Homo sapiens: one gene and its partners. The protein of the gene in region 4 binds, or shares a complex with, the protein of the main gene of each other region. Each region holds a gene or a part of one and is shown on either strand. Other genes may lie near its edges. The genes, in order: MED25, CCNC, MED16 and MED19.

Evidence for each region.
Region 1: MED19 (region 4) and MED25 share a complex: the UniProt entries of both Homo sapiens proteins name them as parts of the mediator complex.
Region 2: MED19 (region 4) and CCNC share a complex: the UniProt entries of both Homo sapiens proteins name them as parts of the mediator complex.
Region 3: MED19 (region 4) and MED16 share a complex: the UniProt entries of both Homo sapiens proteins name them as parts of the mediator complex.

Annotation. Positions count from the first base shown.
Region 1 is NC_000019.10:49,821,289-49,828,323, forward strand, and holds part of MED25 (mediator of RNA polymerase II transcription subunit 25), read left to right. Parts: intron 1-7,035. UniProt on the Homo sapiens protein: Component of the Mediator complex, a coactivator involved in the regulated transcription of nearly all RNA polymerase II-dependent genes.
Region 2 is NC_000006.12:99,541,883-99,544,691, forward strand, and holds the end of CCNC (cyclin-C), read right to left. Parts: intron 2,392-2,809; coding exon of another isoform or gene 2,340-2,391; exon of another isoform or gene 1,898-2,339; intron 1,728-1,897; coding exon 1,673-1,727; 3' UTR 505-1,672; downstream 1-504. UniProt on the Homo sapiens protein: Component of the Mediator complex, a coactivator involved in regulated gene transcription of nearly all RNA polymerase II-dependent genes.
Region 3 is NC_000019.10:869,167-876,201, reverse strand, and holds part of MED16 (mediator of RNA polymerase II transcription subunit 16), read left to right. Parts: intron 1-747; coding exon 748-958; intron 959-2,619; coding exon 2,620-2,753; intron 2,754-4,083; coding exon 4,084-4,276; intron 4,277-4,948; coding exon 4,949-5,165; intron 5,166-7,035. UniProt on the Homo sapiens protein: Component of the Mediator complex, a coactivator involved in the regulated transcription of nearly all RNA polymerase II-dependent genes.
Region 4 is NC_000011.10:57,709,181-57,717,050, forward strand, and holds the start of MED19 (mediator of RNA polymerase II transcription subunit 19), read right to left. Parts: upstream 3,036-7,870; 5' UTR 3,000-3,035; coding exon 2,783-2,999; intron 1-2,782. Other genes in the region: TMX2 (thioredoxin-related transmembrane protein 2), read left to right, coding at 3,439-3,627. UniProt on the Homo sapiens protein: Component of the Mediator complex, a coactivator involved in the regulated transcription of nearly all RNA polymerase II-dependent genes.

The DNA of each region.
Region 1 (7,035 bases), on a different chromosome or scaffold from region 4:
CTCTTGTTTTTGAGGAAGGGTCTCACTCTGTCACGCAGGCTGGAGTGCAGTGGCTCAGTCACGGCTCACTGCAGCCTCGACCTCCTGGGCTCAAGCTCAAGCGATCCTCCCATCTCAGCTTCCCGAGTAGCTGGAGTAGCAGGGACGGTAGCCAAATGCCAGCACACCTGGCTGATTTCTTAAAAATATTTTTGTAGGTCGGGCGTGGTGGCTCACGCCTGTAATCCCAGCACTTTGGGAGGCTGGGGCAGGTGGATCACCTGAGGTCAGGAGTTCGAGACCAGCCTGTCCAACATGGTGAAACCCTGCCTCTACTAAAAATACAAGCAATCATCCTGCCTTGACCTCCCTAAGTGCTGGAGTGCTGAAATTACAGGCCTTAGCTGGGCATGGTGGCGCATGCCTGTAATCCCAGCTCTTGGGAGGCTGAGGCAGGAGAATTGCTTGAACCTGGGAGGTGGAGGTTGCAGTGAGCCGAGATCACACCATTGCACTCCAGCCTGGGCAACAAGAGTGAAATTCTGTCTCAAAAAAAAAAAAAAAAAAAAATTTTGTAGTGGCGGGGCACGGTGGCTCATCCCTGTAATCCCAGCACTTTGGGAGGCCAAGGCGGGCGAATCACCTGAGGTCAGGAGTTCGAGACCAGCCTGGCCAACATGGTGAAACCCCGTCTCTACAAAAAATACAAAAATTGGGCAGGCGTGGTGGCTCACGCCTGTAATCCCAGCACTTTGGGAGGCTGAGGCGGGTGGATGATGAGGTCAGGAGATGGAGACCATCCTGGCTAACACGGTGAAACCCCGTCTCTACTAAAAATACAAAAATTTAACCGGGCGCGGTGGCAGGCACCTGCAGTCCCAGCTACTCGGGAGGCTGAGGCAGGAGAATGGCGTGAACCCAGGAGGCGGAGTTTGCAGTGAGCCAAGATTGCACCACTGCACTCCAGCCTGGGCAACAGAGCAAGACTCTGTCTCAAAAAAAAAAAAAAAAAAAAAACCATACAAAAATTAATCAGGTGTGGTGGCATGTGCCTTGTAATCCTAGCTACTCAGGAGGCTGAGGCAGGAGAATCACTTCAAGCCAGGAGGTGGAGAGATCGCACCACTGCGCTCCAGCTTGGGTGACTGACTGACTGAGACCCTGTCTCAAAAAAAAATTGTTTTTTTTGTGGAGACAAGGTCCTGCAATGTTGCCCAGGCTGGTTTTGAACTCCTGGTCTCAAGTGATCCTCCACTTCAGTGTCCCTAAGTGCTGGGATTAGAGGCATGAGATGCTGCACCCAGAGGCCCCACTAGGCTCTTTGTAATCAAGTCTTGGAAGTTACACGTCATGTCATTATTTCTGTTACATTCTTTTTTTTTTTTTTTTTTTTTTTTTGAGACAGAGTCTCGCTCTGTTGTCCAGGCTGAAGTGCAGTGGTGCGATCTCAGCTCACTGCAAGCTCCGCCTCCCGAGTTCACGCCATTCTCCTGCCTCAGCCTCCTGAGTAGCTGGGACTACAGGTGCCCGCCACCACACCCAGCTAATTTTTTGTATTTTTAGTAGAGACAGGGTTTCACTGTGTTAGCCGGGATGGTCTCGGTCTCCTGACCTTGTGATCCACCCGCCTCGGCCTCCCAAAGTGCTGGGATTACAGGCGTGAGCCACCGCGCCTGGCCTACATTCTGTTTTTTAACCTGAGACAGGGTCTTGCTCTGTTGCCCAGATTGGAGTGCAGTGGTGGGATCATAGCTTGCTGCAGCCTCGACCTCTCGGGCTCAAGTGATCCTCCCACCTCAGCCTCCTGAGTACCTAGGACTGCAGGTGGGCACCACCATGCATGGCTGATTTCTTTATTTTAATTCTTGTAGAGATGAGGTCTTGCTGTGTTGCTCAGACTGGTCTTGAACTCCTGGCCTCAAGCGATCCTCCTGCCTTGACCTCCCTAAGTGCTGGAGTGCTGAGATCACAGGCCTGAGCTGCGGTGCCAAGTCCACTTCTGCCATACTGCATTTGGTGTGCAGTATAAGCCTATCCCGTTCAGTGTAGGAGGAGACTACCCAGTGTGTAAATAGCAAGAGGCTGGATTGCTGGGTGCTGTATTGGGGGCTGGGTACCGCAACCTCACAGCGATGTTTGGAGAATTAAGTTAGTTGATGATGTTTAATACAGTGCCTGGCATGTATTAAGTGCCGTGTAAGTGTTTCCTAGGATTTTGTGCCTCACTCTCCTGGTTTGCAAATGGATAATGGTCGCGTGTATCTCCGTGTTGTTAGAAGATCACAGGAGCTAAGTTGCTTGCTGTGTGTCGCTTAGGGCCTGGTCTGCAGTCAAGGTTCATTAAACAACACCTGTTCGTAGCGGCCGTTACCTCTGTATGCTTCTGCAGCAGGTGTTTGTTGAGTATCTGCTTTGTTCCAGTATGTGCGTGCAAGTGCTGGGTGCAGGACATATAGTGAAAAGGTGACACAGAAGCTTCCCCTTCGCGGTAGCTGGAATTCGTAGGTAACACAGAGCAGGGTTTCTCATCCTTGGCCCTAGTGACACTGTGGACACAGTCATTCCTTGTAGTGGGGGCCGTCCTGGGTATTGTAGGATGTTTAACATCATCCTTGGCCTCTACTCACTAGATGCCGGTAGCCCCCTCCCAAAGGTGTGACAACCAAAAATGTCTCCAGGCATTATAAAATATCCTCTGGGAAGGGGGCGCAAAATGTATTCCATTTGAGACCACTGGGAGAGACCGGTAAGACAGTCTTGAGTGATGTTAAATGGAGACTTCTTGAGGCCCAGGTCCAAGTCTGATGCTCCTCAAGTGCCTGGCAGCCAGCACAGGGCCTGGTACACAGGAGGCCTCGGGTAAATTCTGTAGAATGAATGTCCAGAATGCATTTAATACTAACCACCCTGGAAGACACTGCATAGCCTTCCAGACCCAGCTCAGGTGTCTTATACCCTGGGAAACCTTCCCGATTCTTGCAGCCAGATGCTTCCTCCTCTGCCTCCATGACCTGTCACAGCCCCACACCTCTGGACTGTGAATGTCCAGGTCCCTGGGTGCTTCTGCCATTTGCTTCCAGCTGGGGCTTGGCACCCACGGGGCTTCAGGAGACTGGCTGAATAAATGAATTAGTATGTAATACAAAAACAACAAATAAATAGAAAAAATTAACCAGGCATGGTGGTGCACACCTGTAGTCCCAGCTACTCAGGAGGCTGAGGTAGGAGGATCAACTGAGACTGGGAGGCAGAGGTTGCAGTGAGCCGAGATTGTGCCACCGCACTCCAGCCTGGGTGAAAGAGCGAGACCCTGTCTCGGGAAAAAAAAAAAAAAAAAAGAGGTGGAAGGAAAATAGACCCAGTGTGTTTCCCATAACATTATGACAACTCAGTTGTTCATTCATATGTTCACTCATTAATTCAACAAATGTTTGTGGAACAAATCGTCCTGGGCACCAAGGAGTTAGTGGGCATGAGATAGGCAAGGTCCTGGCCCTCATGGAACTAGTTTGCCTGGGTGACAGGCCGTGTGTAGGGAGCCCTTGGTCATGGCCGGATGCTGTTAACATTCACTCATTTTGACCTCCTGGGGCTCCAGGCACCTGTTAGCCGATGAAAGCGGGCAGCAGAGACCCCGGGGAATGATACTGGGTAGAACAAATGGGAGTAAGTTAGAGGACTTGGGAACACCAAGTCAGAGCCCACTTGTGTCACCTAGGGGGCTTTTATTTTTATTTTGTGTCTGCCATATCAAGGGGTTTATTTGGAATTTATCATAAACTTGATATTTTAGCCATATTTTGCAGCCAGCCATAGTGCTTCTTCTGTTCAAGTTTTCCACATTTCTTTGACAAAATGTTTATTACATGTCGCCCTTTGAGCTTGTAGCACATGACTTGTACTTAGTGTTCAATAAGAGAAACGCAAGTTTTAGCATCTCAAACTGGTTAGTTTATCACACTTTTCCTCATAAGGGTTTTGTTTTGTTTTGTTTTGTTTGAGATGGAGTCTCTCTCTCTCTCCCAGGCTGGAGTGCAGTGGCATGATCTCAGCTCACTACAACCTCTGCCCCCGAGGTTCAAGTGATTCTCCTGCCTCAGCCTCCCGAGTAGCTGGGATTACACGTACCCACCACCATGTCTGGCTGGTTTTTGTATTTTTAGTAGAGATAGGGTTTCACTTTGGCCAGGTTGGTCTTGAACTCCTGACCTCAAGTGATCCGCCCACCTCGGCCTCCCAAAGTGCTGGGATTACAGGCATAAGCCATTGCACCCAGTCACTTCCAACTGTTTTACAGGGTCATGCCTGTAATTCCAGCACTTTGGGAGGGTGAGGAGGCGGATCACCTGAGGTCGGGAGTTCGAGACCAGCCCGACCAACATGGAGAAACCCTGTCTCTACTAAAAATACAAAATTAGCTGGGCGTGGTGCCGCATGCCTGTAATCCCAGCTACTCGGGAGGCTGAGGCAGGAGAATCACTTGAACCCAGAAGTCGAAGGTAGTGGTGAGCTGAGATCGTGCCATTGCACTCCAGCCTGGGCAACAAGAGCGAAACTCCATCTCAAAAAAAAAAATTTATCACCCCAAAGAGGACACCCCATATGCATGAAGCACTAGCTCCCCATTCCCCCATCCCCCCATCCCCAGCCAGGGTGGTTTTGGCTCGAGTCCCAGAAAGGCCCAGGAAAATATTGGCTTAATTTCACCTGTAGCAGAACAGCTGGGTCCAGAGTTGGTTCACCCCAACTCTTTGCACACAGTTGAAGTTTCTGCGTGCAAAGCTGTCTTGATGCCGGGCACAGTGGCTCACGCCTGTAATCCCAGCACTTTGGGAGGCCGAGGCGGGTGGATCATAAGGTCAGGAGTTCGAGACCATCCCGGATAACACCGTGAAACCCCGTCTCTACTTAAAAATTAAAAAAATTAGCCGGGCGTGGTGGCGGGCACCTGTGGTCCCAGCTACGAGGGAGGCTGAGGCAGGAGAATGGCGTGAATCCGGGAGGCGGAGCTTGCAGTGAGCGGAGATGTGCCTCTGCCCTCCAGCCTGGGAGACAGAGCGAGACTCCGTCTCAAAAACAAAAGCTGTTTTGATGGCTAGGAAGAGGAGGGCTGGGAAGTGTGTGGTGGGTTGGGAGCAGCGCCCGAGTGCCCTGAGAGCAGGAAGAAGGCTCAGGGGCTCAGTGTGCTCACTGGCCGGGCCGAGTGGGACTGGAAGGAAATCAGTGCGAGAACTCAGGCAGGAAGCGGAGAGCCCCGCTGCATGGCCCTGCCAGGCCACCAGTGCACTGAGTACTCAGCAGATGGTTCCTAGGCCTTGTGTGACCTAGGGTCAGACGCCTTGGTGTCTCTCTTGGAGGGCTGCACAGGGTGCGGAGAGAAGCTTGACAGCTGCAGTATCGGGTGATCTATGATGTGACTAAGGGCAGGCCGTAAAATTAGGTGGCATGTAGGGAAGGCTTCCTATAGGAGGGCACACCAGGATGGGTGTCGTAGTTTAGCTGGATTCCATCCGGGCCGGAATGGGTGTGTTCCAGCACATGCAGAGACCTGGATGTCTGGGCTTTGTCAGTTGAGAGGACCTATAGGTGCGGGCATGGAGCAGGAGAGATGGACGGGGTGCAGGACTCGGAGGCCTCGGATGCTGGGCCGATGCCGGGCCGAGGGCCTGGGTTGGTTCCAGTCTTGATGGACACGGTTGGGCCTGTAGACGTTCATTCACTTAGCCTACATTTCCTGAGGCCTCACATGTGCCCCGCTGTGGTGGGCAAGCCTGGGGGTAAGAGAGGACTCAGACCCCATCCCCGCCTGTGGGAGAGGTAGGATCAGAGACCACACTTCAGGGGGACAGGGCCCTCAAGACCCTCAGAGGGGTGCTCGGTCTCCACACACGTCCCCTGCAGCAAAGGTCAGCCTCTCACGACCACGTGACCGGAATAATGGTGGCAACCACAGCTGCCCTTGAGGAGAGGCCATCCCCGGGCCACAACCCATGTGGGACGGATGCTGCGACGCGACTGCAGATCAGGCGGAGGAGAAACGAGAGTCTGTGTGTGTTAGTTTCCCAGGCTGCCGTAGCAAAGTATGAGAAACTGGCCAGAAGAATGGAAATTGATGTCTCAGGGTTCTGGAGGCTGGAAGTCCAAAATCCAGGTGGTAGGGCCAGGCTGTCTCTGAAATCTTACAGGGGAAGGGCCCTTCTGCCTTTCCTGGTGCCTGCTGAGGCTGCATCACCCGTCCTCACATGGCCTCTCCCTGTGTCTCTCTGTGTCCTTGTGTCTTCCCTCTGTGTGTGTGTCCGTGTCCACGTTTCTCCTTTTCACAGACACCAGCCATAGTGGATTAGGGCCCGCAATTTAACTCGATTACCTGTGTAAAGATCTTTCCAAATTAGGTCACCTTCTGAGGTACTGGGGCTTAGGACCTCAACCTGTCTTTTTGAAGGGGGCACACTTGAACCCATAAGACTAGGAGGACAGAGGAGGCCCCCGTCTCTGGCTGGGAAGGTGAAGTGGGGCCAGGACTGATTTGGAGCAGACAGCCCAGAGAGGGGAGGGGACAGCAGGAGGCTGGGCATGGAGTCAGTCACTCCAGGGTTGGAGTCAGCACAGGATCCTAGGCTTGGGGTCCCCAGCCCTTTCCCATTCCCTCCCAGTCCTCATGATTAAAGACAACAAATGTCGGCCGGGTGTGGTGGCTCACTCCTGCAATCCCAGCACTTTGGGAGGCTGAGGCAAGTGGATCATGAGGTCAGGAGATGGAGACCATCCTGGCTAACATGGTGAAATCCCGTCTCTACTAAAAATACAAAAAATTAGCCAGGTGTGGTGGCAGGCACCTGTAGTCCCAGCTACTCGGGAGACTGAGGCAGGAGAATGGCATGAACCCAGGAAGCGGAGCTTGCAGTGAACTGAGATCATGCCACTGCATTCCAGCCTGGGCGACAGAGCGAGACTCCATCTCAAAAAAAAAAAAAAACACAGACAGCAAATGTCCCCTGTCCTGTCTGGGACTGGTGCTGTGCTAGCACCAGGGATTGGGTAGGGAACTCAGCAGGG
Region 2 (2,809 bases), on a different chromosome or scaffold from region 4:
TAAGATGGGGGATGGCAACTTACGGAAAGTGGGTGGGAGTTTAGATGAAATGAAATTGGCCATAAATTGATAACTACTGAAGCTAGATGATAGGTACATGGAGGTTCCTTACTTTACTCCTGTATATGTTGTTTTAAATCTTCCACAATAAGAGACTGAAAACAAAACTATGAGGCATGGTATTAATTTTAAAAATAAACACTTAAAGACTATAGGTCTTACCTAAGCCCAACATTAATTCCTTCAGACCTGAGGAGAGCTTTTTTTCTTATTAAGCCCAGGAAACCTATATATGTCATCAGTCTGACTTTACACAGTCTCGCTTTCCAGCTCATTTGATACGCTCCATCAGAAATAAATTTTCTATTTAAAATCTGTTTGTAATGATTTGAAATTACCCCCTTGACAACCTATAAAAGGCTTTAACACTTAACTAAAGGAAGAAGAATTCTCAAAAAACAACATCAGGCAAATTCAAAAAGATAAATTCAAGACACTAGTCGATACAGCTGGAGAAGTTACTTTTATTCTTGCAGTTTTATACTAGGAAGTCAACATTTAATAAGCCATCATCCACAATTGATTAAAAATGTTTAATCCTTAAATTGTGCATCAATATCCTATGACTCCAAATTTTATTTATCACTCTCCTTCAAGTCTGAAGAAAATGATTAATTTGCTAAGTTCCACAGACAGTACAGTCCCACTGACATAACATTTAGTATGATGTCCTACTCTCATATTAGAATTAAGGACAGCCAGTATCAAACTGGCCTGAAACCTGATTGTGTTCCTGGTTCAGAATACCTGTAGTAAATCTGTAAATCCACACCAAGACACAACATTAAACTAGGGTGTGTATATCTTATAAAAACCTTTTCACAGTAAAAATCAACATTAAAATTTTACCAAATTCCAACATTATGGTTTTTGAATCCAATTAAGCTTTCAAAATGCCTGATTAGCTGTGAATTAATTATAAATAACTTCATGTAGTTTGCCCAGCATTTCAAAATGGTTATGGACTATCATGTTTAAAATGTCAAAGTATGCTATACATATTGCACTTTTCTGCTAGGCTGGGCTAGTATCTTCCATGGCAAGATCCTCAAACTACTGAATAAAATACACTTTTAAATCAATATAGGTACTTGATTAATTTCCCTGAAATTATCAACATCATTACCAAAATCTTCCAGGATTTTGTAAGATTTGATTCCTTAAATACAGTTTTAAAGTTAAACTTATGGAGGGAAAAAAACCCTCATAGATTGACTGTAAATTTTACGTCCTTTTTTGGTCCCTCAATGACCAAAGAGAATTTTAAACAAATTATGCTTCATGTTTCCTGGCTTAATAAAAAGCTACAATTTTTATTATCCAAATTAAGAAATATTATACTAATCAAAAGCTATTAATTTTGAAATGTCTATGTATGTCTGTCTGTAGGTCCCCTTAGAACCTTTCCAAACATTTATAATCAAGAGATTTTAATCAATTATGTACTAGAATCATATTAAAGAAAAACTTATTTTGCAAAAATAAAATCACTTTCCAATATGCTTGACAGAAACAAGCTATTCATTTTCATTTGTGTTCCACTGAAGACATTACTGAAATCTGTCCAATGGTTTATTTCCAAGTGGTCCACTATGGAATTCTTCGGAATGTTTTAAGATTGGCTGTAGCTAGAGTTCTGACTTCCATTTGGACCCTGCTCTCCTTCACTGTTCAAATGGGGAAGAAAGAGATTTTATACCAATTAAAAGATCCATTTTTACACCCTGATAAGCCTACTGACTTTTAAATTCATTATTCTGTGGCACAACTATACAAAACAAAGACATTCCTCATTATAAGACACGTGAAAAATTAAAATCCAGAAGACTAACAAACATTGGTTTTATGTTTTTATTCTTATATAACTTTGTGCCCTCACATATAACAAGCATTCTGGAAGTTAGTGTCCATATATACTCAAAAACTTTAAATTAGGGTATGGGATTTCATTGTTATTACAGGTATCACTCAACATAGAGATTACAGCTTCTTCTAAACAAATTTCCTATAAAATTAAATCTTACATATAAAATCCTATTCCTACTATTTATGAAAAACAAGAAGTGTTCTTCAAAAAAAAAAAAAAACCAAAACTGTTGTCCAAAGGCATAATAAAATCATATATAAATACAGCAAACCTTTATAAGTCAGCAAGAAATATGGTAATTTCCTGGAAAATGCTGAATACTTAAAATAAAAATGCTGAATACTTAAAAATAACTAAAACTGAAAATACCAGTAACTTTGGCAATAGGATTATTGCCTTATCTTGTCCACCATCATCTTGCAGCTTCAGGCCCTGCCACTAGTGGAGAATCACTCAGGGAATTTCTGCAAAAAATGCATCCAAAGGTAGCTGTTTGAATGACTGCCTTAAACAGCTCCTTGAATAAAGTATTAACTTTTTCCAAATTGTAACATTAACTTATGAGTAGCAATCCATAAATCTATCTTGTTATATAACAATCATTTTTCTAAAGAAACAATTAAGATGGATGGCATTTCTTTATTTCCCTTCTGACTTTTTCTCCCTGCCCCAAATGAACTGATACACAGTGAGGGCTGAGAACCACTGAACTAAATGAACACATCTTACTTAAAACACACACATACACCCCAATAACAACAAAAAAAACCCTCTTAGCACAGGTGATTCATTTTTAGCAAAAATATATTCTTATGTGCCATGGACCTTAGGGTCACTTAAAAACCAAAATTCTTTATCTTTACAATATCAGATCATTCATTG
Region 3 (7,035 bases), on a different chromosome or scaffold from region 4:
GAGCTTCACTTGTTTTCCTCTGTGCCATCAGAAACCAATACGAAGATAAAATGGGAAAAAAAAAATCCCATTCACGGCACAGCCTGCCGAGAAACGCGTGAGACCCAGGCGGGGGCTGCGAGGCTAAACCCCAGCGTGGCTGGGATCCGTAGCCAGTGACAGCGCTAGTGATGGCGAGACCTCGCCCTCTCCCTCCTTGGGCCGTCGCTGTGTGCCAAGCGTTTCATTTTTGTTTTTAGTTGTTTCTATTTTTTGTAGAGATGGGGTGTCCTACGTTGCACAGGCTCTCCAACTCCCAGCCTCCAGGAATCCTCCAGCCTCAGCCTCCCAAAATGCTTCAGCTCATTCATTCATTCTCTCTAGACCAGGGTCTCCCCGTAGGCACCACAGACATCGGGGGCTGGAGCAGCCTCTGGGATGGGGGTGTCCTGTTGAGCAGCCTCCCCAGCCTCCACCCGTTACTTGGCAGGGGCACCCCCAGTGGTGACAACTAAAAATATCTCCAGACATCACCAGGGGCCCCCACCAGAGGCAGAGCCGCTCCCAGCTGAGAACCCAGCACCTGGTCCTGTGCGCCTGGTCTTCCGCACCTGTTTTGCCATGAGGTTGCTGAGGTGCAGAGGCGAAGCAGCTTGCCCAGCTGACCGAGCGCCTGGTGTCAGAGTCGAACTGCTCTTCTCCTCAGCTGGAGCCTTGGCGGGCGCCTCTGCTCCGGCCCCTTGGGGTGACCTGGCTTCCTGCCCTCAGGTCCTCTCCACCCGGATCCTGGCCATGAAGGCCTCGCTCTGCAAGCTGTCGCCCTGCACGGTGACCCGCGTGTGCGACTACCACACCAAGCTCTTCCTCATCGCCATCAGCTCCACCCTGAAGTCGCTGCTGCGCCCCCACTTTCTCAACACGCCTGACAAGAGCCCCGGCGACCGGCTGACCGAGATCTGCACCAAGATCACCGACGTCGGTGGGTCCTTTTCCACGCCCGGGGCCTCGAGGTTTCTTTCATCTATTTATTTTATTTTTATTTATTTTTTTTACTCTTTTGAGATAGGGTCTTACTCTGTTGCCCAGGCTGGAGTGCAGTGGTGCGATCTCAGCTCACTGCAGCCTCCGCCTCTCTGGTTCAAGTGATTCTCCTGCCTCAGCCTCCCAAGTAGCTGGGATTACAGGCACGTGCCACCACGCCCGGCTGATTTTTTGTATTTTTAGTAGAGACGGGGTTTCACCATGTTGGCCAGGCTGGTCTCGAACTCTTGACCTCAAATGATCCGCCCGCCTCGGCCTCCTAAAGTGCTGGGATATAGCCTAAAGGCTGGGATTACACCACACCCAGGCTTTTAGAGACGGTCTCACTGTGTCATCCAGGTTGCAGCACGGTGACGCAGTCCCAGCTCAGCGCAGCCTCTGCCTTCTGGGCTCAAGCAATCTCGCCTCAGCCTCTGGAGTAGCTGGGATTACAGACACGTGCCACCACACCCGGTTTTTAATTTTTTGTAGCAACAGGGTCTCACTGTGTTGCCCAGGCTGGTCTTGACCACCTGAGCTCAAGCGATCCTTTCACCTCTCTCTACTCCTGGGGGCTGAGACGCTCCCAGGCCGACACCCGGCACCCGGGTCCTGTGCAGGCAGGTCTGCTCCTCCTTCCGTTTTGCCGTAAGGGGACTGAGGCAGAAAGGCTAAGCAGCTTGCCCAGGCTCACCCAGCACGTGGTGTCCTACTCGCCTCTGCCTCCCAAAGCGCTGGGATTACAGGCGTGAGCCACTGTGCCTGGCAGGCTGTTTCTTTTAAAAATTAGGGTTGCTGGGCGTGGCGACTCGTGTGTAATCCCAGCACTTTGGGAGGCCAACGCGGGCTGATCACGAGGTCAGGAGATCGAGATCATCCTGGCTAACACGGTGAAACCCCGTCTCTACTAAAAATACAAAAATCAGCCGGGCGTGGTGGCGGGCGCCTGTAGTCCCAGCTACTCGGGAGGCTGAGGCAGGAGAATGGCGTGAACCCGGGAGGCGGAGCTTGCAGTGAGCTGAGATCACCCCACTGCACTCCAGCCTGGGCGACAGAGTGAGACTCTGTCTCAAAAAAAAAATTTAGGGTTATCGTTTGTCTGGAGTACCCGGTTGAGTGTGGACACGTGGCACTCCTGGTAGCTGGGAGCCGTGTGCACAGTCATGGTTAGTTCTGTGGGACCACCCTAGTCACCATCCGAGAGGCATCTGTTGGGTGTGTAACCGCCGCCAGCTGCCAGCCGGGGGTGGCTGCAGCTGCACGCTGTGGACATGCCCCTGTGTTCACAGAGTTCACCTCGGAGCAGGGGGCAGATGTGCACCAGCAGGCCGGGCCTGAGCACTGGTGGCCCTGGCATGGGGACCTGCCCACGCCAAGGCCTGCAGGCCGAGAGAAGCTGGTTGGTGCTGAGCACAGCGGCCCCCGGGGGGGGGCAGGCAGTGGGCTCCCAGTTCCTCTCCGTCCGGCAACGCCATCGCCCCCTTCTCGTTCCCGGTGTGGGTCCCCTTGTGTCCTGGTACTGGGTGGGCACTCAGTGCAGGTCGAAGGACCGAGGGGTGCAGTTAGGTCACCCTGTGTGTACAAGAGGCCCGAGCTGACCCGACCCACGTCTCCTTGTAGACATTGACAAGGTCATGATCAACCTCAAGACGGAGGAATTTGTGCTGGACATGAACACACTGCAGGCGCTGCAGCAGCTCTTGCAGTGGGTGGGCGACTTCGTGCTGTACCTGCTGGCCAGCCTACCCAACCAGGTGCGCCATGCTCTCCCCTAAGGCCCCGCCCCCCACCTGGGCCCCCATCTCATCAGGACCCCGCTTCCCTGCCCCTGCCCCTCAAAACCACCTCAGCCCCGCCCCTAGTTGGAGTCCCGCCCCTACTTGGAGTCCCGCCCCTACTTGGAGTCCCGCCCCTGCTTGGAGTCCCACCTCAGCCCCGCCCCTGGTTGGAGTCCCACCCCTACTTGGAGTCCCACTTCCTGAGTCTGTCTCTTCTTAAACCCCCACTTCCTAGCCCTGCCCCACTTCCTAGCCCTGCCCCACTTCCTAGCCCTGCCCCACCTCGGAGCCCTGCCCCATCTCGGAGCCCTGCCCCACCTCGGAGCCCTCCCCCACCTCGGAGCCCTCCCCCACCTCGGAGCCCTGCCCCACCTCGGAGCCCTGCCCCACCTCGGAGCCCTGCCCCACCTCGGAGCCCTCCCCCACCTCGGAGCCCTCCCCCACCTCGGAGCCCTGCCCCACCTCGGAGCCCTCCCCCACCTCGGAGCCCTCCTCTCCATGAAGCCTCTGCTGTAAGAAGCCTTTCCTTGGCCACACCCTTCCTGCCCATTCTCAAAGCCCCGCCTCCCAGGCCCTGCTCCTTCTCAGCCCCACCCCTACACGAAGGCCGGTTCGCCTTGCTTCTGCTGCTGCTGCCCCCACCCCTTACCCTCCCCAGCTCCCTGCGCCTGGGGTGGGCGGCCTTGAAATCAAGTCTCCATCCACACCTCCACCTTCAGTTCTGCGGCTTGTGCGCCCCTGACCAGGGCTCCAACCTCGCCCCCACCCCCCCGCCGGTACACTCTGTCCTGCCCCAGCTGTGATTTCTTCTGCCCCACCCACCCGGCTTCATCCTGCCCTGGGGCCCGCCCTTCTCCACCGCGCCCATCACGGACGGTTTGAAGTCCCTCTCTTCTTTTTGTGGGGCTTTAGGCTGCCAGGGGCCACCCCTGGGGCCTCCCTTCCCTGGTCCTCTCAGCTCCCAGTACAGTCACCAGGGGCCCGGGCCCGCAGCTGTAGGAGGGGGCGGCTGCTCCTCCACGTGCAGGTGGGGATATTGGCCTCAGCCAGAGCCTCGTCTTAGTCTTGTGGACTCTCAGGGATGGGACGACTCTGCAAATGGGGCTGTCCTGGGCCCTGCAGGGCTCTGAGCAGCGTCCCCGGCATCCACCCACTCGGTGCCAGAAGCACCCCAGTCCTGACCACCACAAATGTCCCAGACCCTGCCCATTGCCCCCCGGTCGGGGTTCCACCGACCCCAAGACACTTCATCCCATCGCCATCTGCCCCCCGCCGCCCCAGCCACACCGATGCCTCTTTCGGGCAGGGTTCCCTGCTGAGGCCGGGCCACAGCTTTCTGCGGGACGGCACCTCGCTGGGCATGCTTCGGGAATTGATGGTGGTCATCCGCATCTGGGGCCTTCTGAAGCCCAGCTGCCTGCCCGTGTATACGGCCACCTCGGATACCCAGGACAGCATGTCCCTGCTCTTCCGCCTGCTCACCAAGCTCTGGATCTGCTGTGAGGCACCCCCGCCCGCCCCTCCCCTCTCCCCGCTCCCCGCTCTCCCCTCTCCCCGCTCCCCGCTCCCCGCTCTCCCCTCTCCCCGCTCTCCCCTCTCCCCGCTCTCCCCTCTCCCCGCTCTCCCTTCTCCCCGCTCTCCCCTCTCCCCTCTCCCCGCTCCCCTCTCCCTACCAAAACACAAGTCCTGCCTGAGCCCCCCGCCAGAACATAAGCCCCTGCAGGTGGCAGTGGCTCTGCCTTGATATCTGCTATTTCCCCAGTTCCTAGCACAGGTCCATGCTCTGTGTGGGTGCTTTTGGGATGGCAGCCACTTCCAGGCACCTGTTTGCTGTCTCTCCTTGTCGGGTTGTGTGTATGTGAGGAGGGTGAGCTGTGTCATTCTTACATCCCAGTGTCTGGAAAAGGCACAGTGCTTCCCACATACTTTTTAAGTGAATGAGGGAGTCTCATGACAGGCCAGAGACGGGGAGAGAACTCTGGGGTCACCCAGCCAGGCAGGCAGAGCCGGGGCCCCGACCTGGTGAGAGAACCCCGGGGTCACCCAGCCAGGCAGACAGAGCTGGGGCCCTGACCTGGTGCTCCTGAACTGGAGGGGCTCCCAGCACGTCCCGGGTGGCCGGGCGGTGCCCCAGTCAGGGGTGCTGAGACTTCCGCCACCTCTCTCCGCAGGTCGCGATGAGGGCCCAGCGAGCGAGCCGGACGAGGCGCTGGTGGATGAATGCTGCCTGCTGCCCAGCCAGCTGCTTATCCCCAGCCTGGACTGGCTGCCAGCCAGCGACGGCCTGGTTAGCCGCCTGCAGCCCAAGCAGCCCCTTCGTCTGCAGTTTGGCCGGGCGCCCACGCTGCCTGGCAGTGCTGCCACCCTGCAGCTCGACGGCCTCGCCAGGTGCGTGTGTCCCTGCATTGGTCCCCAAACACAGGACTCCTTCCTCCGTGTCCTGCCCCGGGACCCCCGAATCCACACGGCTCCCTCCCTGCATGTCCTGCCCCAGGTCCCCCCGAATCCACACGGCTCCCCGCCTCCATGTCCTGCCCGGGACCCCCCGAATCCACACGGCTCCCTCCCTCCATGTCCTGCCCCGGGACCCCCCGAATCCACACGGCTCCCTCCCTCCATGTCCTGCCCCGGGTCCCCCCGAATCCACACGGCTCCCTCCCTCCATGTCCTGCCCCAGGACCCCCCCGAATCCATACGGCTCCTTCCCTCCATGTTCTCCAGTCATGGCCATGACTGCTGCTTCCTTCTAGGTGCCCCTAACTCCATCCCCTAGTGGTGTCTTCTGCTGTGTCACGAACCACCCCCAACACGGGCACCCAGCCCTTCCATTCACCCTCTCCCTTTTTTTTTTTTTTTTTGTCTCCCCGACAGGGTCTCACTCTGTTGCCCAGGCTGGAGTGCAGTAGTGCCGTCTTGGCCCACTGCAACGTCTGCCTCTCGGGTTCAAATGATTCTCCTACCTCAGCCTTCCCAGTAGCTGGGATTACAGGCATGAGCCACCACACCTAGGTATTTTTTGTATTTTTGGTATAGAGGCGGTTTTGCAATGTTGGCCAGGCTGGTCTTGAACTCCTGACCTCAGGTGATCCACCTGCCTCGCCCTCCCAAAGTGCTGGGATTACAGGTGTGAGCCACCGCCCCGGCCTTGCCTTGGTGTTTCCTGATTGTGTGTTGGCCTCGCTGTACAGGGCGCCCTGCCTTAGCCTCTGCCCTTAGTCTCTGGCCCCCCTGGATGTCAGGCCTCGCCGTAGATCCCTCTGTGGATGGAGAGAGACGCCTTAGCATATGGCCCAGGGCCCTGCTGAGCAGACACCTCATCAGGAGGATCTCCCGGGGGCAAGAGGTCACCTTGCAGGGCCCGGGGCTGGCCTTTCTCTGGAATGTGCGGGGTTTGGGCAACCCAAGTGTGCTGAGCTGACCCTGGCTGCCCAGCAGCCCTGTGAGGTGGGACCTTGTCACCCCATTTCACGGTGAGGAAACCCAGCCTGGAAAGGGTGGGACCTTGTCACCCCACTCATCTGGGGTCACGCGGTCAGGAAGTGGCCGAGTCAGGATTTGAACCCAGGCCCGTCAGACCCCCAGCCTGTTTCAGACACACGTTTGACAAGGAGCACATGCAAACCCTCTGAGCCACTGATTGCTCAGGGCTGGAATTTTAGAAAACACAGATGAGCAAAAGGAAGAAAATGAAGTGAACCTCCAGCAGCCCTGCTCCGGGGAAGGCCCCGGCTCGGCTCCAGGACCTCCAGGGAAGGCACCCCCGGCTTGGCTCCGGGACCTCCGGGAAGGCGCCCTGGCTTGGCTCTAGGACCTCCAGCATTTTCTTCCTCGTGCTCACTGTGGGAGGGGCCTCCTAATGAGTCACACACGAGGGTTTGGGTTTCAGGAAAAGACTTGATGGAAAGAGAGGACGGTTACGTCAGAGGCTTGTAAACTGGGAAAATTTCAGATATTTAATGAGAGCAGAATAAGCCGGCCCACCCCCACCCAGACCCAGGTCCCCCACCCACCACCGAGGGCAGCTTTTGCCACCAGAATCTTGTCGTTCAGAGGTCCCGGCACCTCCAGGCCGGGTGTCTGGGCAGAGGTGGTGTGGAAGTCCCCATGTACCTGCTTCTGTCCAGCCTCAAATGGGAGCGTCACAAGCACCTTCCCTGCACCTCAGGCTCCCCGGGCACGTGGCGGACCGACCCTCGTCCCTGTGTGGGCCCCGTCCCCTTTACTGGGTCTCTAAGCCTCAAGCTCCCCAGGCACCTGG
Region 4 (7,870 bases):
AGATCTGCCTGACCAACAGGGAGAAACCCTGTCTCCACTAAAAATAAAAAATTAGCTGGGTGTGGTGGCACATGCCTGTAATCCGAACTACTCGGGAGGCTGAGGCAGGAGAATCGCTTGAACCTGGGAGGCGGAGGTTGTGGTGAGCTGAGATTGTGCCATTGCACTCCAGCCTGGGCAACAAGAGCAAAACTCTGTTTAAAAAAAAAAAAAAAAGAGGCATCTTGGAGACCAAACATGTCCAAAATAACTCTTGATTTCCACCTCTTCAAACTTGTTCCTTCCTCATCTTCCAAGTCTCCGTACCCATACACCCAATTATTCAAGCCGAAAACTTAAAAAGGCATCAATTCCTCTATTTCCTTCACTTCTATATACAATATATATTTTTAATTGAGACAGGGTCTTCCTCTATCATCCAAGCTGGAGTGCAGTGGCACAATCATGGCTCACTGCAGCCTCAACTTCCTGGGCTCAAGTGATTTCTACCACCTCATCTTCCTAGGTAGCTGAGACTACAGGTGCATGCTGCTATCCCTAGCTAATTTATTTTTATTTTTTGTAGAGATGGGGTCTCATTATGTTGCCCAGGCTGGTCTCAAACTTTTGGGCTCAAGCAATCCTCCCACCTCAGCCTCCCAAAGTGCTGGGATTACTGGCGTGAGCCACAGCGCCTGGCCCTGTATTCAATTTTTCAACCCTGTCAGCTCTACCTCTAACATCCTGTATCCATTTACTTCTCTATGCCCTGCTATGCTCTGGTTCAAACCATTATCTTTCCTGGACTACTGAGCAGTAACTTCTGACTAATTTCCCCACTTTCTATTTGTCATGTGGCTGCTTAAATGATTATAAACAAGTGCATTTGACCAACTTCCTATGTTAAAATGGCTTTCCTTGGCTGGGCACAGTGGCTCAGACCTATAATCCTAGCACTTTGGGAGGCCAAGGCGGGAGGACTGCTGTTGGCCAGGAGTTCAAGACCAGCTTGCGCAACACAGTAAGACCCAGTCTCTACAAAAAAATTTTAAGTTAGCCAACTGTGGTGGTGCATGCCTGTAGTCCTAGCTACTTGGAAGGCTGAGGTGGGACGACAGCATGAGCCTAGGAACTGGAGGTTACAGTGAGCTATGATTATACCACTGCAGTCCAGCCTGGGTGACACAGTGAGACCTTGTGTCTATAAAAAAATTTTTTAAATGGCTTCCTTTTGTATTTACAATCTAAATGCCTTTACTGCTTTATAAAAGCCTCTGCCTAACTCTCCCAGCTTCATCTCTCTCCCTAACACTCTTTCCTTTTGTTCACTTCACTGGAGTCCAACTGATTTTCTGTCCCTCAGATATTCTAAGCTTTTTCTCACATCAGGGTTTCTGACCTCATTTCTTGTATCTACAATTGTCTCTCCCTCCTGTCCATACATGGCTGGCCCTTTGTCTATGCTTACATTTTAGTTCAAATGTTAGCTATGTGAAGAGAGCATCTCTGGCCACTCTAGCTAAAGTAGTTCTGCCCCTCAATTTTTTTTTTTTAAGAGACAGGGTCTCATCTGTTGCCCAGGCTGGAGTGCAGTGGCACAATCTTGGTTCACTGCAGCCTCGACCTCCTGTGTTCAAGCGATTCTCCTCCCTTAGCCTCCTGAGTAGCTGGGGCTACAGGCATGCATTACCACGCCCGGTTAATCTTGTATATTTTGTAGAGACTGGGTCTCGCCATGTTGCCCATGCTGGTCTCAAACTCCTGGGCTCAAGGGATTCTGCCTCGGCCTCCCAAAGCGCTGGGATTACAGGCGTGAGCAACGCGCCTGGCCACCTTCAATTTTTATCATGTTTTCTTTTCCTAGCATTAACCACTTTCTGACATTATCTTGTTTACAATGCCTCCTCCACTGAAATGTACATCCCAAAAAAGGCAAGCATCTTGTCAGTCTTGTTCACAACTGTCTCCAGCATTTAGAAAAGTGCTTGGTACATAGGTACTCAACAAAATAATTTTTTGAATGAAGAGTTTGGTTCGATTCTTATCCCTTTTTTGATCAGACCAGGAAATGCCGGAACCTTAGAAGGAAGAATGGCAACTTGCCCCAAACCAATAGCAAGTCTGTGGGAGACCTGTAACTAAAACTTTGGGTCCCCAAAGATATTAAATCAGGCCTCTCGAGTTCCAAACTCAAACCCTGGATTTTGTTTGTTTTGAGACGGAGTCTCGTTCGCCCAGGCTGGAGTGCAGTGGAGCAATGTCGGCTCTCTGCAACCTCCGCCTCCCGGGGTTCAAACGATTCTCCCGCCTCAGCCTCCCGAGTAGCTGGAATTAAAGGTATACGCCACCACGCCCAGGTAATTTTTGTGTTTTTTGTGGAGACAGGGTTTCATCATGTTGGCCAGGCCGGTCTCGAACTCCTGACCTTAGGTGATTCGCCCGCCTCCGCCTCCCAGAGTGTTGGGATTACAGGCGTGAGCCACCGCGCCCAGCCCTAGGTCATTTTTTAGAGAGACATAAACCAGTGTCAGGGACACAGCCTGGACATGGTGCAAAAGACAGTAACGGAGATGCACTACGCCCCTGCCCGCCATTCATCCCTTTGGTTGAATTCAACTCATCCTGGTTGAATTCAAGTCATCCCTCTGCTTGTGAATCCTAACAGCGCTTCCGACTTAGGGCTCCACAGTCCGGGTATGCGTTGCCTAGGTTACCTCGCACCTCCGCTAGCCGGCTGAGAGCCACGCCCATCACCTCCTCTCTAAGATTTGATTGGCTGGCTTTGGCAAGGCCGAGTACTCACCTGGCAGTTCCCTCATGAGGTAAAAAGGGCCACAGCCAGCTCCTGACTTGTCCGCGCCAGGAGGAGCCGTGGCCGCGGTGGGAGGCGGGGCCGTGCCGGGTCCCCCGCCCGCAGGAGGCGGTGGCGGGGGTGGAGGCTTTCCTGGTCCGAAGCCGAGTGCGGTTGGGGGCGGTGGTGGGTCAGCCTGAGCCCCAAACAGTGCCGTGAAATTCTCCATCGTACCCTCCGCCCCGGCGCTGTCTCCGTGTCTGCCGTTGGTAATTTTCATTGGACAATGCTTTCAAGGAGTACCCCCCCGCCCTTTCTCAAGGAGCCGCTTGTCATTGGATGCCTCAGGCACCGCCTACCTTTTTTCAACAACTACTTCCGTCGCCTTATGAGAACGTTCAGGAAGTGCTATTTAACCTTATTAGAGTCTTCTGCTAGCTCTGCTTGCTACAGTCCAATAAAATGACTTAGGCGGATAAAGCGACAACTAGACTAACCAATAAAATATTAAGTTCTTTTTTGGGTTCTGACCTACCACAGCGTTCAGAGAACTACATCCGGGTTTAGAGGCCGTACGTTTGCGATATAGCCCAATAGCAGTCGTTATGGTGGGGGAGGCGGGGCGAGACCTACGACGCCGGCGAGCAGTGGCCGTTACGGCCGAAAAGATGGCGGTCTTGGCACCTCTAATTGCTCTCGTGTATTCGGTGCCGCGACTTTCACGATGGCTCGCCCAACCTTACTACCTTCTGTCGGCCCTGCTCTCTGCTGCCTTCCTACTCGTGAGGAAACTGCCGCCGCTCTGCCACGGTCTGCCCACCCAACGCGAAGACGGTAACCCGTGTGACTTTGACTGGGTGAGCCTCCCGCGTGTTAGTACCCCGCGACCTTGACTGTCCCTGCCCTTGCAGGTGTATCTGGGAACCCTGGGGTTTACCTCTCTGAGGACACCTGAGGTTCCGAGCCTGTAGCGGACTTAGAGACTATTAAGTGCAGGGTCCGAACCATCATCGAGTCTAAACTTTGTGTTTAAGATGGGAAAACGGAACATGTTAGTCGTAGCCCATGCACAACGGCCCAACAGCTTTTGACTGTTGAGTCCAGGTTTCTTTCTGTTTCACCATTGAGACTAATTAACAGCCCTATCAAAACTGTACATACACGTGTATAACGTTTTACAGTGCCGCTCATTATGTAAAGCCTCCTGAGGAGCCAGTAAGGTAGACAAGGCAAGTAGTAATATTCCTGTTTCATTGGTGAAGAAATGGATCTCGGTATATTTAGGTGACTTGCCCCAGGTCATACAACTAATGAGTGCCTGGGACTTGAAACTACTCTTCTGGCCACACTACCTGCACAACACTGTCAGCCGCTTCTTAATTCAATAAACATTTCTAGAGTGTACACTCTAGGCACTCTGCTTGATCCTGAAGATGCGAAAGTGGATAAAATTTGGGGGCTACTGTAAAGGAATTGTAAAAAATACGTTGTAAAGAAATCTTTGGGATTTCTTTGGGAAGTGTCCCAAGCTCCTTGCTGTGCTTCCTTGGTATGGGTGGAGGGACTGCTCGGAACATAAACTTAAAGCACTTTCCCTTCTGCCATATAGCATGTAGGGGCCAAGGAAAAGCTTCCCCTTTGCTCTCTGAGGGTTTGTTGAAAAATCAACCGACAAAGGGCACATTAATAGGAGAAAGGCATAGAAATTTTATTTTAACGTGCATAGCATGAGGGAATTGCAGGAGAATGACCCAGTGGGGTACAGATGCTTATATACCCTCTTTCATAGGAATATGGGAGATGGGAAAATGTGGGTGATTTTAAGGTGGATCGTAAATGATTTTTAGGGTGATTCAGTGGCCTGGAGAACATACAGTGGCCTGGGACAATGACTGTTGGGCCTGCAGAGCAGACAATGGTTTCTGACAAAAATCTGTCCAGGTGTGTTGACAGGCTTCCATCTTTCTTCTTGTACTGAAGTAAGTTAATGAAAACTCAGGGAAGAGACCAGAAGTAATTGTTGTCTTCTTTGACAGGTCTGGACTTTAGGCAGATAAGGTAGTTATCAGAGTAAAGCTGCTTCCAGTATCTGCTGGTTTCCAGGGACCTTTAATTTAAAATGATTAGCATACAGGATGCCATATTTTGGGGTGTGAGTCCCTGGTCTTCTTTATTTCCTTTGTCTGAAACTTCCTTAGAAGTTTCACTATAAGCTGAGTTGGTGTCTGTGGAGAGAGAAATCGGGCTAGTAATTGAGCGGCAAAGGATCCCATTAAACCAGCCTCTCATTTTGGGGGATAGTCCAGTTCAATTAAATTGTTGTGTCTCATTTCAGAAGATGGCATTGTAGATGAGTTCTCAAAGCTAGGCCTCTGTATATGATGTAGGCAAACAGGTATTTAATAAGAGAGACATTTCTATGGAACAAGACAAACAAAGCTTAATATCTGGTATAGTCTATAAACTAGTTTCTTTAGAGTCTGGAGGGCAGTCAATTGGGAAGATTAATAGCAATCTATTTTCCTAGATTGTAGGTTGTGTGTAAAGTTTGTCCAAATATAAGCTTTTGTGGTGATTTTTTTTTCAAAGTCACGTTGACTAGCTTTAGCTGGTAAGGCCTTAGGAAAAAGGCAGGGTTTTTAGTTTTTTGGATTTTTTTTTGAGACAAGGTCTTGCTCTGTCATCCAAGCTGGAGTGCAGTGATGTGATCATGGCTCACTGTAGTCTTAACCTCCTGGGCAAAGCCATCCTGCCACCTCAGCTTTCCAGGTAGCTGGAACCAAAGGCATGCACTACACACCTGGCTAATTTTTAAAAATTTTTTTTCAAGGTGGGGTCTCTTGATGTTGCCCAGGCTGGTCTTGAACTCCTGAGCTCAAGGGATCCTCCTGACTTGGCTTCCTAAGGAGCTGGGATTTACAGGTGTGAGCCACTGCGCCAAGCTAAAAAAGGCCGTTTTAATTTTTAGTGATTCTAAGTCAGAAGAGTGGGTGAAAAATGGAAAACATTAGTCTGGAGGTTAGCAATTTTATGAGTCCAGTTTTATTTTCATTAGACTTTGGAAATTTTTACCCAGTCCGGTGATACAGTTTCAAAGTTATCAGAAACCTTTATTTGTCAGCATTCTTCCCATGCTTTCCATGATCCTCCTTGAAAATAAGACACTTGGCCAGGCATGGTGGCTCACATCTGTAATCCCAGCACTTTGGGAGGCTGAGGCGGGTGGATTTCCTGAGCTCAGGAGTTCGAGACCAGCCTGGCCAACATGGTGTAACCCCGTCTCTACTAAAAATACAAAAAATTAGCTGGGTGTGGTGGTGGGTGCCTGTAATCCCAGCTACTCTGGAGGCTAAGGCAGGAGAATCACTTGAACCTGAGAGGCAGAGGTTGCAGTGAGCCAGGATCGTGCCATTGCACTCCAGCCTGGGCAACAAGAGCAAAGTTCTGTCTCAAAATAAATAAATAAATAAAATTAAAAAAATATATTTTATATATAATATATATGTATTAATGTGCTTTTAATACTAAAGCTGATTTTAATAAACTTTACAAACAAATCTGTCTAATCTTGATCAGCTTTGACTAGACAAGATAAAATTTCCATAAACCTTTTATAACCTCTTAGAATTTGTTTTCTTTTTTTTTTCTTTTATTGATCATTCTTGGGTGTTTCTCGCAGAGGGGGACTTGGCAGGGTCATAGGACAATAGTGGAGGGAAGGTTGGCAGATAAACAAGTGAACAAAGGTCTCTGGTTTTCCTAGGCAGAGGACCCTGCCGCCTTCCGCAGTGTTTGTGTCCCTGGGTACTTGAGATTAGGGAGTGGTGATGATTCTTAACGAGCATGCTGCCTTCAAGCATCTGTTTAACAAAGCACATCTTGCACCGCCCTTAATCCATTTAACCCTGAGTGGACACAGCACATGTTTCAGAGAGCACAGGGTTGGGGGTAAGGTCACCGATCAACAGGATCCCAAGGCAGAAGAATTTATCTTAGTACAGAACAAAATGAAAAGTTTCCCGTGTCTACTTCTTTCTACACAGACACGGCAACCATCCGATTTTTCAATCTTTTCCCCACCTTTCCCCCCTTTCTATTCCACAAAACCGCCATTGTCATCCCGGCCCGTTCTCAATGAGCTGTTGGGTACACCTCCCAGACGGGGTGGTGGCTGGGCAGAGGGGCTCCTCACTTCCTAGTAGGGGTGGCCGGGCAGAGGCGCCCCTCACCTCCCGGACCGGGCGGCTGGCCGGGCGGGGGGCTGACCCTCCCACCTCCCTCCTGGACGGGGCGGATGGCCGGGCGGGGGGCTGACCCCCCCCCACCTCCCTCCCGGATGTGGGGCTGACCCCCCCACCTCCCTCCCGGACGGGGCGGCTGGCCGGGCGGGGGGCTGACCCCCACACCTCCCTCCCGGACGGGGCGGCTGGCCGGGCGAGGGGCTGACCCCCCCACCTCCCTCCCGGACGGGGCGGCTGGCCGGGCGGGGGGCTGACCCCCCCACCTCCCTCCCGGACGGGGCGGCTGGCCGGGCTGAGGGGCTCCTCACTTCCCAGTAGGGGCGGCCGGGCAGAGGCGCCCCTCACCTCCCGGACGGGGCGGCTGGCCGGGCGGGGGGCTGACCCCACCTCCCTCCCGGACGGGGCGGCTGGCCGGGTGGGGGGCTGACCCCCCCACCTCCCTCCCGGACGGGGCGGCTGGCCGAGCGGGGGGCTGACCCCCCCACCTCCCTCCCGGACGGGGCGGCAGGCCGGGTGGGGGGCTGACTCCCCCACCTCCCTCCCGGACGGGGTGGCTGGCCAGGCAGAGGGGCTCCTCACTTCCCAGTAGGGGCGGCTGGGCAGAGGCGCCCCTCACCTCCCGGACGGGGCGGCTGGCCGGGCGGGGGGCTGACCCCCCCCACCTCCCTCCTGGACGGGGCGGCTGCCGGGCGGAGACGCTCCTCATTTCCCAGACGGGGTTGGTGCCGGGCAGAGGGGCTCCTCACTTCTCAGATGGGGCGGATGCTGGGCGGAGGGTCTCCTCACTTCTCAGACGGGGCGGCTGGGCAGAGACACTCCTCACCTCCCAGACGGGGTCGCGGCCGGGCAGAGGCGCTCC